2 separate regions of the Homo sapiens genome follow, and region 1 is linked to region 2. The links come from fine-mapping of genetic effects on gene expression. A gene starts in region 2. The other region holds a variant in brackets. All regions are shown on one strand. Distances are between the middles of the regions. Region 1 overlaps VPS53 (VPS53 subunit of GARP complex). Region 2 holds the start of VPS53-AS1 (VPS53 antisense RNA 1).

What was found. PIP is the estimated chance that this variant, and not a neighbour inherited with it, causes the effect.
Region 1: its variant is the best candidate, but not a certain one, in a credible set for the expression of VPS53-AS1 in whole blood (INTERVAL, PIP 0.56).

What each region holds. Positions count from the first base shown.
Region 1 is chr17:543,417-551,416 of GRCh38, reverse strand. All of the region lies in intron 17 of VPS53 (VPS53 subunit of GARP complex), which reads left to right. It overlaps VPS53-AS1 (VPS53 antisense RNA 1), which reads right to left. Exons shown (of 3, transcript XR_007065570.1): 3 at 64-1,781. Among named protein-coding and RNA genes, the nearest start is that of VPS53-AS1, 25 kb to the right of the region's middle. The variant G/A (reference allele first, on the strand shown) is at 3,268.
Region 2 is chr17:519,189-527,188 of GRCh38, reverse strand. It overlaps VPS53-AS1 (VPS53 antisense RNA 1), which reads right to left and starts at 4,452. Exons shown (of 3, transcript XR_007065570.1): 1 at 3,760-4,452. It overlaps VPS53 (VPS53 subunit of GARP complex), which reads left to right. Exons shown (of 22, transcript NM_001128159.3): 20 at 5,451-5,588; 21 at 7,259-7,363; 22 at 7,891-8,000. RefSeq lists an enhancer at 6,207-6,708.

The sequences.
Region 1 (8,000 bases), 24 kb before region 2:
TTTAAATTTTTTGTAGAGCTAAGAGTCTTGCTATGTTGCCCAGGCTGGTCCTGAACTCCTGGCGTCAAGCAGTCTTCCCACCGAGTCCTCCCCAAGTGCTGGGATTACAGGCATGAGCCACAGTGCCCAGCTGAGATGGATCATTTTTAATTACTGAGCGCTACCTCATGTTCCTCTCATGTTCCTATTTTTGGCTTTTATGTGCCTATGCCTTTTTTTCCCAAATGAATGTCAATTCCGTAAGTGCACAGACCATGTCTTTCACCCCTCTTTTATCTCTCATGTAGTCTTGAATATGGGAGATTCATTTTTGTTAATTAAAAACCAATCAGCCATGTCCTTTATTTACGTATTATCTTTGATTAGTATCTGACACATGCTAAAAACCTTGGTGTGGTCTCACCAGAATGGGTGTTTTCATTAGTGCTTAAAGTAGTAACTTCTGACTCATTCTTCATTCTTGCCCACTGAGAGGTTTTTCCAACTCCTTCTGAGCTCTGGTGCCAATGTAAGAGTATTTGATCAGGTTGTGAACTCTGGTTTTCTAATATCGTGGTGGCCCATCAGTCAGCCCTTGGCCCTCAAGTCTCCTCCTTTGGCACTTACTGAGCGCTACCTCATCTTCCTATTTTTGACTTTTATGTGCCTATGCCTTTTTTTCCCAAATGAATGTCAATTCCGTAAGTGCACAGACCATGTCTTTCACCCCCTCTTTTATCTCTCTTGTAGTCTTGAATATGGGAGATTCATTTTTGTTAATTAAGTTGGAAATGGGCCTTTGTTATGCTAAACCCAAGTAACATGCAGCTGCAACTCTAGAACTTTGTAGAGCAGGGGTTGGCAAACTAGAGCCTGGGAACCAGATCTGGCCCACTGCTTGTATTTGAAAATAAAGTTTTATTGGAATACAGCCATGTTCCTTTATTTATGTATTATCTATGGCTGCCTTTTTGCAATATAGTGGTAGAATTGAGCCATTGCAACAGAGACTAGCCCACAAAGCTAAAAAAATTAAATATTTACTGTCTGGCCCTTTACAGAAAAAGTTTGCCAATGTCTGCTCTAGAGTCATAGGCTCTTGTAGCAAATTCTGGAGAAACAATTTATCTAGGTTATACTGGCCAGTACCAGAGGGCAGTGGGAGGAACACTAACTTTAGAGTCAGACAGACCTAACTCCTCCAGGGTTTCCTTTGGGGTGTTGAGCAAATGATTCACCTGTCTGGGCCAACGTGACATCATCTGGGCCCACATACCCCAAGTGAACTGTGGATCTCTGCCTCCCAGCATTGCTGTGAGGATGAAACATGGAACGGGCGGGTCTAGTGCCAGGCACATAGTAAATGCTCATTAAATGTTAGTTCCCTCTCCCTCTTGTCAGGAGGAATGACCATGTCACAAGGTTGTGTAAGCAGACATTTGGTCTGAATTTGGTTTTGCAGTAGATTGTAAATATTTAACAAAAATAAGATTAAAACCAAAATGTAGGCTTTAGGGTTTTATGAACTGAAGTGGCAAGTCCTAAAATAGCTGATGTCACAGTTTTATTCAAAAAGCTGATCTTTTCAGCAGTCCGGTGCTGATGGGTACTTCCAGTATTCTCAGCATTCACAGGAGAACACTCTGAGCAGGCAAAGTGAGGCCAGTCCATCTGCTTAGAGGATTCGTTTTGCCAGCTCTCATGATCCCCTCGCTGCTGGTAAGCATTCTCTACATCCTGAGTGGGATCTGTGCCAGCTGCCATCTCTCCTGAACTGCCACACACTTCAGATCGGAATGCAGCTGCCGAAAGAATTTTCACATTCACCAAAGGAAGAGTGGGATTTTTTTTTTTCAATAAAATCACGGTTGGAAGGGGTTTAACACTGCAAGTGTTGCTTATACGAACTGTCGGTTCGTTCGGTGGATTTCCCTCAAACCCTGCCCCGTCCCACCCTCCACTTCTGCCCCGTGCCCACACCAGCAAATACGAACAGAGACCGTGCCTCCAGAGTCCTTTGTTTATATCATAGGAAAACCACAGACTTGGGAACGCAGCAGCTGGGAGGCCATTACTTTTTGTCTGAGTCTTCTGGAGTTCTAGCAAAATAAAATCCATGTGATGGAAATAAACAAGCCAAGTGGTCACAAATTGATTCAACACACATTCTGTGTTCTTGATGCCTGCATCCTGTTTTGTGTAGTTTCTTCTAGGATTTAAAAAAACTTTTGTGATAATGGTTATTTCTGTCTCTGATTCTATCATTTTTGCTGCTGGTTAAACAGTTCAGTTCAGACCCTGCCCAGCACAGTGCTGGGAGCTGCAAGGCTCAGAAAGGCATAAACCCTTGGCTAAGGTGTTTAGATTCCAGTAGCTGAGGGCAAGAGATGTGTAAGATGACAGCAATACCCAGTAACTTTAATATAAGAGATGAGGAAATCAGTGCCATAAGAAAAGTACAAAATACACCCTTTTTAAAGAGGGAGGAGTTCATATCCAGGTGGGGAGGCAAAGAAGGCCCTCGTAAGGAAGTGGTGTTTGAAACAGATGAGGGCGAAATTCTGAATGAGTTTGTGATTAGTAGGGCAGTTCAAACAGGGTGAAAACATGAGTAAAGAGAGGTTAGGGAAGCTAAAGAGCTTGGTTCAAACTGCCAATCTCATTCAACATCCCAGGGGCTCCTCAGGCTACTCCTGTACTTGGACTGACAGAGTTAAGATTGGAAACGAGACTGTCCTCAAGGAGTCTATACCCTGCTGGGAAGAAAACTGAGAACAACCAATACTGTAAATAAGTGTATCTTATAAATGTCAGAAGGACTGTTGGCTGGCCAAAGTGGAGTGTAGTCGTTGGATATTTCCAGAAGGACTGTTGGCTGGCCAAAGTGGAGTGTAGTCGTTGGATGATTCCAGAAGGACTGTTGGCTGGCCAAAGTGGAGTGTAGTTGTTGGATGATTCCAGAAGGACTGTTGGCTGGCCAAAGTGGAGTGTAGTCGTTGGATATTTCCAGAAGGACTGTTGGCTGGCCAAAGTGGAGTGTAGTCATTGGATGATTCCAGAAGGACTGTTGGCTGGCCAAAGTGGAGTGTAGTCATTGGATGATTCTGAGTTGACGGAAGGAGACTTCCTTGACAAGAGGGATTGAGCCTGGCAACTTGGTTAAGTCATTTTCCTGGGAGACCTCATTCTCATGGAAGGCATCCCATGGCCTCTTCCTTGGTTGGCATATAGAGCTTTCATTATCTATCTCTTTACTCCACTGCTAGGTCAGTTTCTGCCGCTCACTCC[G/A]GAGTATGTGCCCTGTTCTCCAGTCGCAGCCATGTTTACTTCCCTGAATGCATATTGCTCTTTTGCGGCTTCCATGCCTTTTCTCATTTTATTCTTTCTGCCCAGAATTTTCTTCCTGCTATCGTCTGCCCAAGGAGCACGTCCTTTAAGATCAAGTTCAAATGTCTGTCCCCATTTAAAAACCTGAGGTATAATTCATATACCACAGAATTCACCCTTTTAAAGTATACAGTTGGCCAGGAGCAGTGGCTCACTCCTTTGGGAGGCTGAGGAGTGCAAATCATCTGAGGTTAGGAGTTCGAGGCCAGCATGGTGGGACCCTGTCTCTATTAAAAACACAAAAAATTTGCTGGACATGATGGCACACACCTATAGTCCCAGCTACTCAGGAGGCTGAGGTAGGAGAATCTCTTGAACCTGGGAGGCCGAGGTTGTAGTGAGCCAAGATTGCAGCACTGCACTCCAGCCTGGGTGACAGAGTGAGACTCTATTTTATAAATAAATAAATAAAGTGTACAATTTAGTTGTTTTTAGTATATCCACAATGTCATGAAACCACCACCACCATCTAATTCCAGAACATCTTCATTACCCCAAAAAGAAACCCCGTACCTCTCAGCAGTCATTCTACATTCCCCTGACAACCATTAGCCTACTTTCTGTCTCTATAGATTTGCCCCTCCTGACATTTTGCATACCTAGAATCATATGGCATGTGGGACATCTTGTGCTTGGCTTTCTTCACTTAGCGTAGTGTTTTCAGGGCATGTGCATGGTGGGGCATGTGTCAGCACTCCATTCCTTTTTGTGGCTGAGTAACATTCCATCATATGGATAGACCACATTTTGTTTATTCATTCGTCTATTGGACGTTTGAGTTATTTCTACTTTCTAATTTTGAATAATGCTGTGAACATTCATGTACAATTTTTCGTGTGAACATGTTTTCAGTTCTCTTCAATATGTACCTAAAGGCCAGGCGTGGTGGCTCATGCCCGTAATCCCAGCACGTTGGGAGGCCGAGGTGGGCAGATCACCTGAGGTCAGGAGTTCAAGACCAGCCTGGCCAACATGGCGAAACCCTGTCTCTAATAAAAATACAAAAATTAGCCGGGTGTGGTAGCGTGCGTGCCTGTAATCCCAGCTACTTGGGAGGCTGAGACAGGAGAATGGCTTGAACCTGGGAGGTGGAGATTGCAGTGAGCCAAGATTGCACCACTGCACTCCAGCCTGGGTGACAGAGGGAGACTCTGTCTCAAAAAAAAAAAAAAAAAAAAAAGGATCTAAGGGACCTAAGGAATGGAACTGAAAGAGCCGTATGGTCAATTTATGTTTAACATTTTGAGAAAGTGCCACACTGTTTTCTGAAGTGACTGTGCCGTTGTACCTTTCCACAGCAAAGTGTAAGGAATCCAGTTTCTCCACATCTTCTCCCACACTTGTTTTCCTTTTTTAATTATAGCCATTTTCGTGGGTGTGAAGTGGTATCTCATTGTGATTACAGTTTGCATTCCTTGCATGACTAATATGTTGATCACCTTCTCAGATGCTACTGGCGATTTGTATATTCTCTTTGAAGAAATGAGAATTAAATGTTTTGCCCATTTTAAAATTGGGTTGTCTTTCTGTTGTTGAATTGTAAAAGTTCTTTTTATATCTGGATACTAGACCCCTTATCAGATATGAAATTTGTAAATATTCTCTCCCATTCTGTGGGTGGGTTGCCTTTTCACTTTCTTGATAATGTCCTTGATTTTCTGAAGTTGGTATATCGTGTGTGTGTGTGTGTGTGTGTGTGTGTGTGTGTGTGTGTGTGTGTGAGATATCTAAGATACCATTGCCTGATCCAGAATCATAAAGATTTACTCTGTGGTTTCTTCTAAGAAATTTAGGTCTTCACAAAAAAGAAAAAAAGGAAAAAAATGTAGGTCTTCAATCCATTTCGAGTTAATTTTTGCATATGGTGTGAGGCAAAGATTCAGCAGCATTCTTTTGCTGAAAGGATACTCAGCTTTCCCAGCACTATTTGTTGAAACGACTATTCTTTTCACATTGGATGATCTTGATACCCTCGTAAAAAATCAGTTAACCATAGATGTGTGGGATTATTTCTGGACTCTCAGTTCTATTCCATCTATCTGTATGTCCACCCTCAGGCCAGTACCACACTGTTTGGCTATAATAGCTTTGTAGTAATCTTTGAAATCAAGAAGTATGAGTCTTCCAACTTTGTTCTTTTTCAACACTGTTTTGGCTCTTCTAGGTCCCTTACAATGTCAGCATTTCTTGCCTCAGCCAGAGCATATTTATTTCTCTTTCAAGACACCATAGTACCTAGACTACCTTTCTGCTTTGTTATGTAATCATTTTTATGTCTTTGTCTTCCCTATTAAACTTTGAACAACTTGAGGGCTGTGTCTTATTCATTTTGGAAACCCGTGGCATGGCACAGTACTTGCTTAACTGTAGTATTCCCTGAATGACTTTGAAGGTAAAGAGGGAGCCAGGGAGTGGGAGAGAAAGAACCAAAGGACCACAAACACACTTTTGACCAAAGATTGGTAAACAAGTGAGACATAGATAACTCTACTGAGCAGAGGTAGCCAGGTGGAGCTGGTAGATGTAGAGTAGGAAACTTGGACAACTTTGTGAGAGACGGTGGGGTCATAGAATCCCTGAAACCTTTAGGTCCATAGCTGGTGCTGTTGAGGATGGAGTGATGCTCCTCAATGGCACCTGATAGCAGAAGGGCTTCTGACTTCAGCAGGTGGCATCCTGGAGCCGATTGAAGAGATGTGGGAATGAAGGAATACGAGCCCGCGGGGGTGTGGCCCTGAGTCCTGCTGCTAGACAAGGAGAGGGAAATGCAGAGCGGTAGTTTGCTAGATTCACATGCAGGTGCAGCCTTCTGCAGGCCAGGCCGAAGAAGGGGGAGGAAAATGTGATGAAAGTCAGGTGGTCCCTCTGAAACTCTGACTTTGAGATTCCAGTAGTGTTGCTGATGAGTTACAGCAAAATTAACTTCTAGACCACGTTTCCTTCCCATAGTGTTATTTTCTTTCTTTCATAAAAAAATTTCTTCACTCTGTTGCCCAGGCTTGGGTGCGGTGGCATAATCATAGCTTACTGCAGCCTTGACCTCCTGGGTTCCAGTGATCCTCTCACCCTAGCCTCCCAAATAGCTGGTACTACTGGCGCACACCACCACACCTGGCTAATTTTCTTGATTTTTAGTAGAGATGAGGTCTTGCTATGTTGCCCAGGCCAGTCTCAAACTCCTGAGCTCTAGTGATCCTCCCACCTCGGCCTCCCAAAATGCTGGAATTACAGGTGTGAGCCACTGTGCCTGGCCTCCATATTGCTTATTTTCTTAGATAACCTGTATGAGTTGATAATAAGTTACTATTTACTGAGCACTTACCAGGAATTGGAACCCAATTAATTTCATTCTAACAATAAATTCATCAGATGGCTATGCTATTTCCCCTTTTCACAGATAAAGAAGCTGAAACAGAGACATTAAATCACCTGCTCCAGATCTTTTAGCTACTTGGGAGGCTAAGGTGGGAAGGTCACTTGAGCCTGAGAGGCAGAGGTTGCAGTGAGCTGTGATCACGCCACCACAGTGCCTCTTTATGCAGGATTGTGGCATGCCATACAGAGAGAGTGAGTAAGTCTTTTTGGCAAATGTGGCAACTGAGGCAAAATCAGCTTAAGTAACCTGCCTAAAAGTGGAAGAGCCTCGGCCTCCTAAACTGCTGGGATTGCAAGCATGTTGCCATCGTGCCCGACCAGATGTTTTTGAAAAAAGGAATAAAATTTAAATCACCATAATTTCAATTAGTTGATACATTTCTGTCAGCATGTGCCCAGTCCTGGTGGGTCCACACGAGTGTTCATGCTGATATGATTATGAGTTCTTCAAGCATTCACCATCATCATGGTGTATATTCATCTCCAGCTTTTCTTGATCTGACACCAGGACTTTTCTACAGTGGAGAAGATGTGTTGAACAGCCAACCCACATATTCCAATCTGCGTTGAATATTTTTCCCTGAAAACTAATGAACTTTCCTTCTGGTATCTTCTTTCCTTCCTTCCTCCCTTCCTCCCTCCCTCCCTCCCTGCCTTCCTCACTCCCTCCCTCCCTCCCTTCCTCCCTCTCTCCGTTCCTCCCTTCCTCCCACTCTCCCTTCCTTCCTTCTTTCCTCTCTCCCTCCCTTCCCCTGTCCCCTCCCCTCCCTCCAGACTCCCTTCCCTCCCTCCAAACTCCCCTCCTTCCCTCCCTCCTTCCCTCCTTCCCTCCCTCCCTCCCTCCCTCCCTCCCTCCCTCCCTTCCTTCCTTCCTTCCTTCCTTCCTTCCTTCTCTTCTTCATATTATGCCCAAAGCCATATAACTTATAATAGTGAAGCTAGAAGTAAAACTAGTTCTCCTGATTCTGGAAAAAGTAGTTATTTGGAGTGTTTTGGTGGAAATACAAAGGATTCTATCTTTTAGATTTAAATCCTACAAATCCTTAGAAATGAGTATGTCTGGTTATGCCCCTGTACGTAGGATAGAGAGCCGTGGGCTCCCTAGCAGGGGCTGTTGGTCTCATGGTCCCCGCCTCTCTCCGTGCCTTTTCCTAGGGCTGCTCACATCACTCAGGTAAATAAATCCAAGTCTCTGTTCAGAAGCAAACACACCTAGTGTTTTGCCTATTAATGGTAGTTTTAGGAAAAAACAGAAACTG
Region 2 (8,000 bases):
CGAGAGCATGAGGAAGGCTTCAGGGATGCCAGAAGTGTGCTCTGTCTTCCGTTAGGCAGCAGGATGTGCACATGTCTGGATGTTGATCAAATGGCATACGTGGTGTTTGTGTACTCTGTGAAAGTTATACCTAATTTTTTTAAAAAGAAAAAGAAATAGAACATGTGTCCACCTTGTTCCATCCCTCCTGATAGCCTGAGCTGTCTCCCCTGTGCCACCTCATTGAAGAATTTTCTATGGTGGGACCAATATGGTTCACCTATGTGGTTTTGTTCACATGGTTCTTTGTCTTCTAGGAGTGTGGGCCTGTATCTTATTTACGCAAAATTTTCATCACTGTTGATAGTCATCATGTCCCCAAGAATTGTAGGAGGCTCCTCGGGAAGTAAAGGGCCCCTCTCAAAGATTTCCATTGCTGGGTGATCAGCCTTCACAGGCATGGCATACTGGCCACCCTTGCACCCCCACATCCCATCAACAACATTAGCCAGCCCACACTGCCCCAGAAATTATCGCTGAGGCAGAAATGAATGTGGCAATAGCCACCCCTTGCCCAATGTCTCATGCCTAAGAAGATGAATTATCAACTATTTCAAAGTTGAAAACTAGCAGATTTTCATGATAAATGGGACCTTTCTGTCTTGTCTTTGCACAGACAGCCGCCAAATCTGTCAGGCTCATTCCCGCCTTTTCTGACTGCCTTGCTTTATGTATAAAACCTGAGACCAGGGTTTTCACCTCTCAGTGTCTGGTAAAGACAGAATTTTATGGTGACTGGCCAGGGAATGAAAGTGTCATATCTCCCTGTATATGAGGGACACTAGAGAATTATGCCTGGTGCATTCAAACCCTTCCTGTCATTTAAGACTGTACAATTATTTATGCATATAATGTATCTCTGGGAAGTAGAAAAGTAGGAAATATCTCCATATGCTTTAAAATATAATGACTGATTTTTTTTTTCCTACCAACAAATGAATGCTAAGACATGGCTTTGATTTTGACAAGGCTCTCAAAATTTGCTACATGGAAGACAGAGTTGAGTCCTGAATGGTAGTCTTTAAACAAAAATTCCAGTTAATTAATGTACAGAAAATAATGTAAAAAACAGTAACTAACTACTCAGCTCAGCAAAATATGTAACATGTTTCCACATTTACTTTACATCTTTTTTTTTTTTTTTTTTTTTTTTGAGAAAATGTCTCACCGTGTTGCCCAGTCTGGAGTACAATGGCGCGATCTCGGCTCACTGCAACCTTCACCTCCCGAGTTCAAGCAATTCTCCTGCCTCAGCCTCCCGAGTAGCTGGGATTACAGGTGTGCACCACCATATCTGGCTAATTTTTGTATTTTAGTAGAGATGGGGTCTCACCATGTTGGCCAGGCTGGTCTCAAATTCCTGACCTTAAGTGATCCTCCCACCTCAGCCTCCCAAAGTTCTGGGATTGCAGGCATGAGACACCGCGCCTGGCCCATTTTTTTTTTCTTTTCTTAAGAGACAGGGTCCCACTCTGTCTCCCAGGCTGGGGTGCAATGGTGCCATCATAGCTCACTGCAACCTGGAATTCCTGGGCTTAAGCCATCTTCCCACCTCAGCCTCCTAAGTAGCTGAGACTACAAGTGTGTGCCACTGTGCCTGTCTAATCTTATTATTTTTGTTTTTGTAGAGACAAGGTCTCACTGTGTTGCCCAGGGTAATCTTGAATTCGTAGCCTCAAGTGATCCTTCTGCCTCAGCCTCCCAAAATGCTGGGATTACAGGCATGAGCTGCCACACCCTGCCTGCTTTAGATCATTTTTATGTAAAGTAAATCATTACAGTTATTGCTGAAGACCGCCCCCATGAACCCCACCCTGCCCATCTCTTCCTCCATGCCCCAAAGTAAACACTGTCCTGATTTTGATTTTATTCTCATATGTGTTTTGATATATGTGTATATATTCACAAATGATATATGATTTTGTTTTGCATATTTTAAAACTATATAAATGGCATTAGACATATCATTTCCCCACTTGCTTTTTTTTGCCCAACTTACTATTTTCTGAGATTTATGCATGTTAATGCATGCTGTGTGCACCCATTCATTTTCACCTCAGCAGCATATTCCATTGCACGAATGTGCTGTCATTTGTTTATTCATTCCACTGTCAATGGACGTGTAGGTTGTTTCCAAACTTTTGCTTTTATAAATAGCGGATGCAGGGAACGTTTTTACATGGGCAAGAATTCCTCTAATGGATATAAGTATTAATGCTGTGTTATGGGTGATACACATCTCCAGCTAAGGAAATGTTGCTAAATTTCCCCCAACGTGCTTGAACTAACTTCTACTGTCACCACTAGTCTGAATTTCAGTGTGGCCGTGCCCACACTAGATTATCAACCTGTTTACTTCTGACTCTGATGGGTGTATTACGGTGTACATTTGTGAATTTCAGTGCCATGGCCGTGCCCACACTTGATTATCAAATAATCTGTTTACTTCTGACTCTGATGGATGTATTATGGTGTACATCTGTGGTTTTAATTTGCATTTCCCAGTTACTAACCAGGTTGCGTGTCATTTCATATGCCTTTCGGGCATTTGAGTTTCCTCTTTTGTGAATCCGGTGTTAGTATTGTTTGCCTGTTGTTGTGTCGCTGTTGGGATAGTTTGTGCTTTTCCTGTTGATGTGTAGGAATCTTCATGTTCGGAACCCCGTTCCCTTGTCAACGTTGCACGTATCTTCTCCTGATTTATGTCTTGTCTTTTACTTTGTTTGTTTCTTCTGATATAGATGCCTTTCATTTTAGGGTAGGTGGTTCATTCTTTCTGATGTTTGACATTCTTCTCCACCCATAAGCAATGAAAATAATCTCTGTATTTTCTTCTTCTTCTTCTTTTTTATTTTTTATTTTTTATGTATTTATTTTTTTGAGACAGTGTCTTGTTCTGTCACCCAGGCTGTAGCGCAAACCTCCCAGGTTCAAGCAATTCTCCTGCCTCAGCCTCCCGAGTAGCTGGGATTACAGGCATGCGCCACCACACCCGGCTAATTTTTGTATTTTTAGTAGAGATGGGGTTTCTCCATGTTGGCCAGGCTGGTCTCGAACTCCTGACCTCAGATGATCCACCCGCCTCGGCCTCCCAAAATGCTGGGATTACAGGCATGAGCCACTGCGCCCTGTATTTTCTTCTTAAAGTTTTTCTTTTTTATATCTAAGAATTTAATCCACCTAGAATGCTTTAGAGGCTTGTTCTGGGTTCCTCCGAGGAAAAGCAGCAGTCATTTCCACTGGAATTCTGGAAAGTGCGCTAACGCCAGGCTCTTCACGTGGGCCTTGAGCAATCAGTGCCATTCCCCCTCCTGGAGGTTTGCATACCCTTTTCTCTGAGCCCTTGGCCTTTTCAACAAAGCAGACACTAGGATAGTAAGAATTTCTATCTCTAGAAATCCAGAAAGGTCCAAAATGCCCTGCACTTTGCTGGCTACAGTTGAATGACCTGCGTGGTGCAGGCCTTTGACTAGCTGCATGAAATTGCTCTGACCTTAGTGTAATTCCTTACCACACCTAAATTATTCCACATAAAACACTGACGTCTTCCCCATGTTTCTACCATTGTTAAAATTACAATTGCCATAACCCTTAAGTTCATAGTATCTGTCGTTACTTAGTTTCTCTTTAATCATTAATTCTTCTGTCCAAAGCAAAGTAAATAGGAAATTGGAGGATGCAAAGTGTCGCAGGGCCTGAAGGGTCCCATTTCTCACCTACCTGATAGGATTACAGAAGGCTTTCCCAAAGAAGCAGGCAGTGGCAGAGAGTACAGGCCTTGCCCTGAATATAAGTTTGGCCGTTATCACCGGAGTTGAGTGGTGGCATTGGGAGCTGTCACCCCACTGCTGCCGTTGTCTGCTTGGTGACCATGTGGTTCCATTCTCCTAAGCCATCTCAACAGGCCAGAGTACACCCTTCTGTCTTCAGCCATTTCTCTGCTCCCTGGTTGCCAAGAGCAGCGGCGGCAGCAGAGCAGGGCAGTCAGCAGGAGTCAGTGTGAGCTCGTCACCAAAACCACCCAGGGACATTTACCTGGGCAACCGGAAATGGAATTCCAGCTTCCCTTCCACCTTTTGTCTAACCCCGTTACCTGGGCAACCGGAAATGGAATTCCAGCTTCCAGTCCACCTTTTCTCTAACCCCGTTACCTGGCAACCGGAAATGAATTCCAGCTTCCCGTCCAACTTTTGTCTAACCCCGTCCGTTGCATGAGATGAGTTTGGTGAGCTGTTAATCCTCTGGAACTTTTTCTCATCTGTAAAATGGGAACAATAAATAACATCCAGGGTAGGTAAGGCTTTACTCAGATTAAATGTGACAAAACGTTCCTCATGTCATTCCCGGCAGTCAGTGAGCCTTTAGGACTATGGGTGTCCTTCTAGATAATTGGCATCCCAGAGAACCAGAACAAACAAAGAGGAAAAGGTAGATTGTTGCCAGGATACAATGTTTACATTTGGGTAAATCTCCTACATCCTCAGTAACATCCAGAGAAATTCAAAGTAAAACAATAATGAGTTACTATTTTTTGCCTAATGAATAATCAGGATTTGATGAGTTTTCAGTGCTGATAAGGGTGCAGTCTGCATGGCTGGCAGAGGTGTAAATGGGTCCATTCCATTGGAAAGATCTTAAAGTTTACACAACCACACACATCACAGAGTACTGCACAGCCATTAAATCACGATTCTTCTTTAGAGATGGGGTCTCGCCATGAGGCCCAGGCTAGAGTGCACTTAAAAACCTTGATTTGTTTTTTAAAGACTGCAAAGATGGGAAAATAGAATATAAAAATTGTGTATATTAAGTGAGAAAACCAGGTTATAAAATTGAATATACATACAGTATGATTCTGATTTAGTTTTATGGAGGAGTTGTGGTTTGTTACTGAGGCAGGGTCTCCCTCTGTCACCCAGGCTGGAGAGTTACAGTGGCACAATCTTGAGTCACTGCAGCCTCAACCTCCCAGGCTTAAGCGATCCACCCACCTCAGTCTTCCTCAGTAGCTGGGACCACAGATGCGCACCCCCACGCCTGGCTAATTTTTGCATTTTTTGTAGAGGCGGGGTTTTGCCATGTTGCCCAGGCTGGTCTCAAATTCCTGAGCTCAAGCGATCCTGCTGCCTGGCCCTCCTGAAGTGCTGGGATTACAGGTGTGAGCCACGGCTCCTGGCCCCCTGATTTAGTTTTTTATATACGTACACATAGGCTGGCTCCTTGATGTTGTTTCTCCTAGGTGATGGGAATTATACATAATTTTTTTCTTTTATATTTCTGTTTATTTCCCCAATTTTTTGCAACAAGAATGTGTTACGTGTATAACGAGAAAAACATGACTCATCGGCATGAGTCCACTCGGCACTGGGTCGCTGGAAGGGGCCGGTAATGCTCTCTGCTTTGCTCCACAGCTGCTGCTGGACACCCACTCGCTGAAGATGGTCCTGCTCGATCTCCCCTCCATCAGCTCGCAGGTGGTGAGGAAGGCACCCGCCAGCTACACCAAGATCGTTGTCAAAGGCATGACCCGGGCTGAGATGATCCTCAAGGTGATGGCTTGTGTTAAAAGGGGCCAGTTATTTATTTAATCTCTTTTTCTGAGAAGCCTTGGTTTTGAAAGCACAGGGTAGGTCCTATCCTCACCGGCCTCAAAGCATGGTCCACATTCTTGGGCTGGACTGGATTTTGGCCTCATCAGATATTGTTGAAAGTCTGTGGATAGTTATTAGGGCTCAGTAATTCCTTCTGACAAATGAATTTCTTGTTGGCGTGGGATTCTCTTGTGATCAAATGTGGTCAAGCTTGGAGGTTAGGTGGTTGCCACTGTGAATCAGTGTATGTCAGGGATCTCCGCTTCTCAGCAGGAATTTCAGGCACAGCTCTCAGTTACTCCCTTCCACATCAGCCTTTTTGGCTTTCTGTACTCTGCCACTTTAAATGAACTCTGAACAGATGTTGTAGTAACTGAATCTAATCAGCAAATGGATATTTTAAAGCCCCATTTAACAAGACTGTACTTCGAGTGAGGAACGTCTGAAGCCCTGCGCATCTGCCTCTGGTTTCCAGCTATTTTGAAGAGTAGGGATGAGGGCTGGAGAACAGATGGTCCTGTGGTGATGTGGTCTTAAAAGCCCAGGACCTGTAGGCTCTTCAGGCCACTTCCTAAACCAGATGACTCAGGGACGGCAGGAGTAGGAAGTGGCAGCAGGGCCTCAGACACCGGTGGGATGTGGGTGAGGATGAAGCAGCTCATGTAGGTAAGGGTGAAGAGCTCATGTAGGTGAGGGTGAAGAGCTCATGTAGGTGAGGGTGAAGCAGCTCATGTAGGTGAGGGTGAAGCAGCTCATGTAGGTGAGGGTGAAGAGCTCATGTAGGTGAGGGTGAAGCTGCCTCATCATGTTCTTTCCCTGCTGCTTACTGCTGGGGAGGAGAGCCTGTGGTCTGGGAATTATCGGCAGAGGATGCCTGAGTGAACTCCTCCTCGCCACTCTTCCCTTCAGTCTCAGGAATTCAAAACAAATCAGTCGGCTGGGGAAAGAAAATCAGATACTGCATTCCAGAACAAAACGGAAATGAATAAGGGTTGCAGTGCCGTTCCTTTCCTTTGTTTGTATGTTAATTGATAGTTTAAGTTAGTCGTTACATGAAGTTACAGATTTTAAGTCTCCAAAAGGTGAGGCAGCTTTGGCATTTTTGTTTTTGCAGAAATCCACTTACTTATACCAGCTCCTTTTGCCACCCATTTCTCAGGAATCATAGTACGTCAAGGCAGAAGGAGCAAGTACCGTGTACTGGTGAAATGCCTGGAACAGGAGACCCTCTCACGCAGGGTTTCCCGGATGGTCCTGATAGTTTAAAAGTCACCTGGGACTCCAGCCAGGCCTACTGAATTAGAGTCTTTAGAGGAGGGCCCCGGAAACCCATACTTCAAACAGCAGCGCAGGTGTATTTAGGATTCAGCAAATTTAGGACATTGCTGTAGTGGCATGTGAAGATGAGATGGGCCACTGGGGCGTTTCTAGTCTGGGTTGCTGCTGCTTAAGGAAACCTCTCAGAATCCATTTAGCGCTCGGCGGGCAAGTGAGGAGTGAGTTTTCCTGAAGGGCCCGCTCCCGTCTCCTCCTGCGGTGGGTAGTGAGTTTTCTTGAGGGCCCGCTCCTGTCTCCTCCCGTGGTGGTAGTTTTCCTGAGGGGCTTGCTCCTGTCTCCTCCCGCTGTAGGTAGTGATGGCCCCTCATGAACCGTTGGTGGTGTTTGTTGACAACTACATCAAACTTCTCACAGACTGCAACACAGAAACCTTTCAGAAGATACTGGACATGAAGGTTTGTGCCGGGACATTTGGTCCACACCTGCTCATCCCCCTCACACTCAGCGGTTCTTAACCGGGAATTGGGATATAAGTTCCGGGGGGGCTTTCTCAAAATGCATGTGCCTGGCTCCACAGAGCAAACCGGATTCAGAGAAGCCTCTGGAGGAGGATGGCCCCGGGCACGTGCACTTCAGGATTCTGACAGGCCCTGCATGCCCCGCTGAGACCACCTGCACAGGGAGGATGGGGCAGGGGCAGGGGGATGAGGACAGGCATGTTGTCCTTCCCACCTTCTTGACCTGTCCTTTCTCCTCTGTCAGCCGCTTCTTTCCCTTCCTTTACCTTTTCTTCCCCTCTCTTTTCCTCCCACGCTACTACCCAGGGGATGGTGAGTCCCTTGAGGAAACGGTTCATCCTCAGCCTGGAGTAACTATGCTGTCTCCAGAGCCTCTGCTGACCCCATATCCAGATACTGCGCTGTCCCCCGTGGGCCATTCTGGCCCAGACTTCGTGACGGTTCTGTTTCTCTCTCAACCTCAGGGGCTGAAGAGGAGTGAGCAGAGCAGCATGCTGGAACTCCTGCGCCAGCGGCTCCCCGCACCGCCCTCGGGGGCAGAAAGCTCCGGCTCACTGTCCCTGACGGCGCCAAC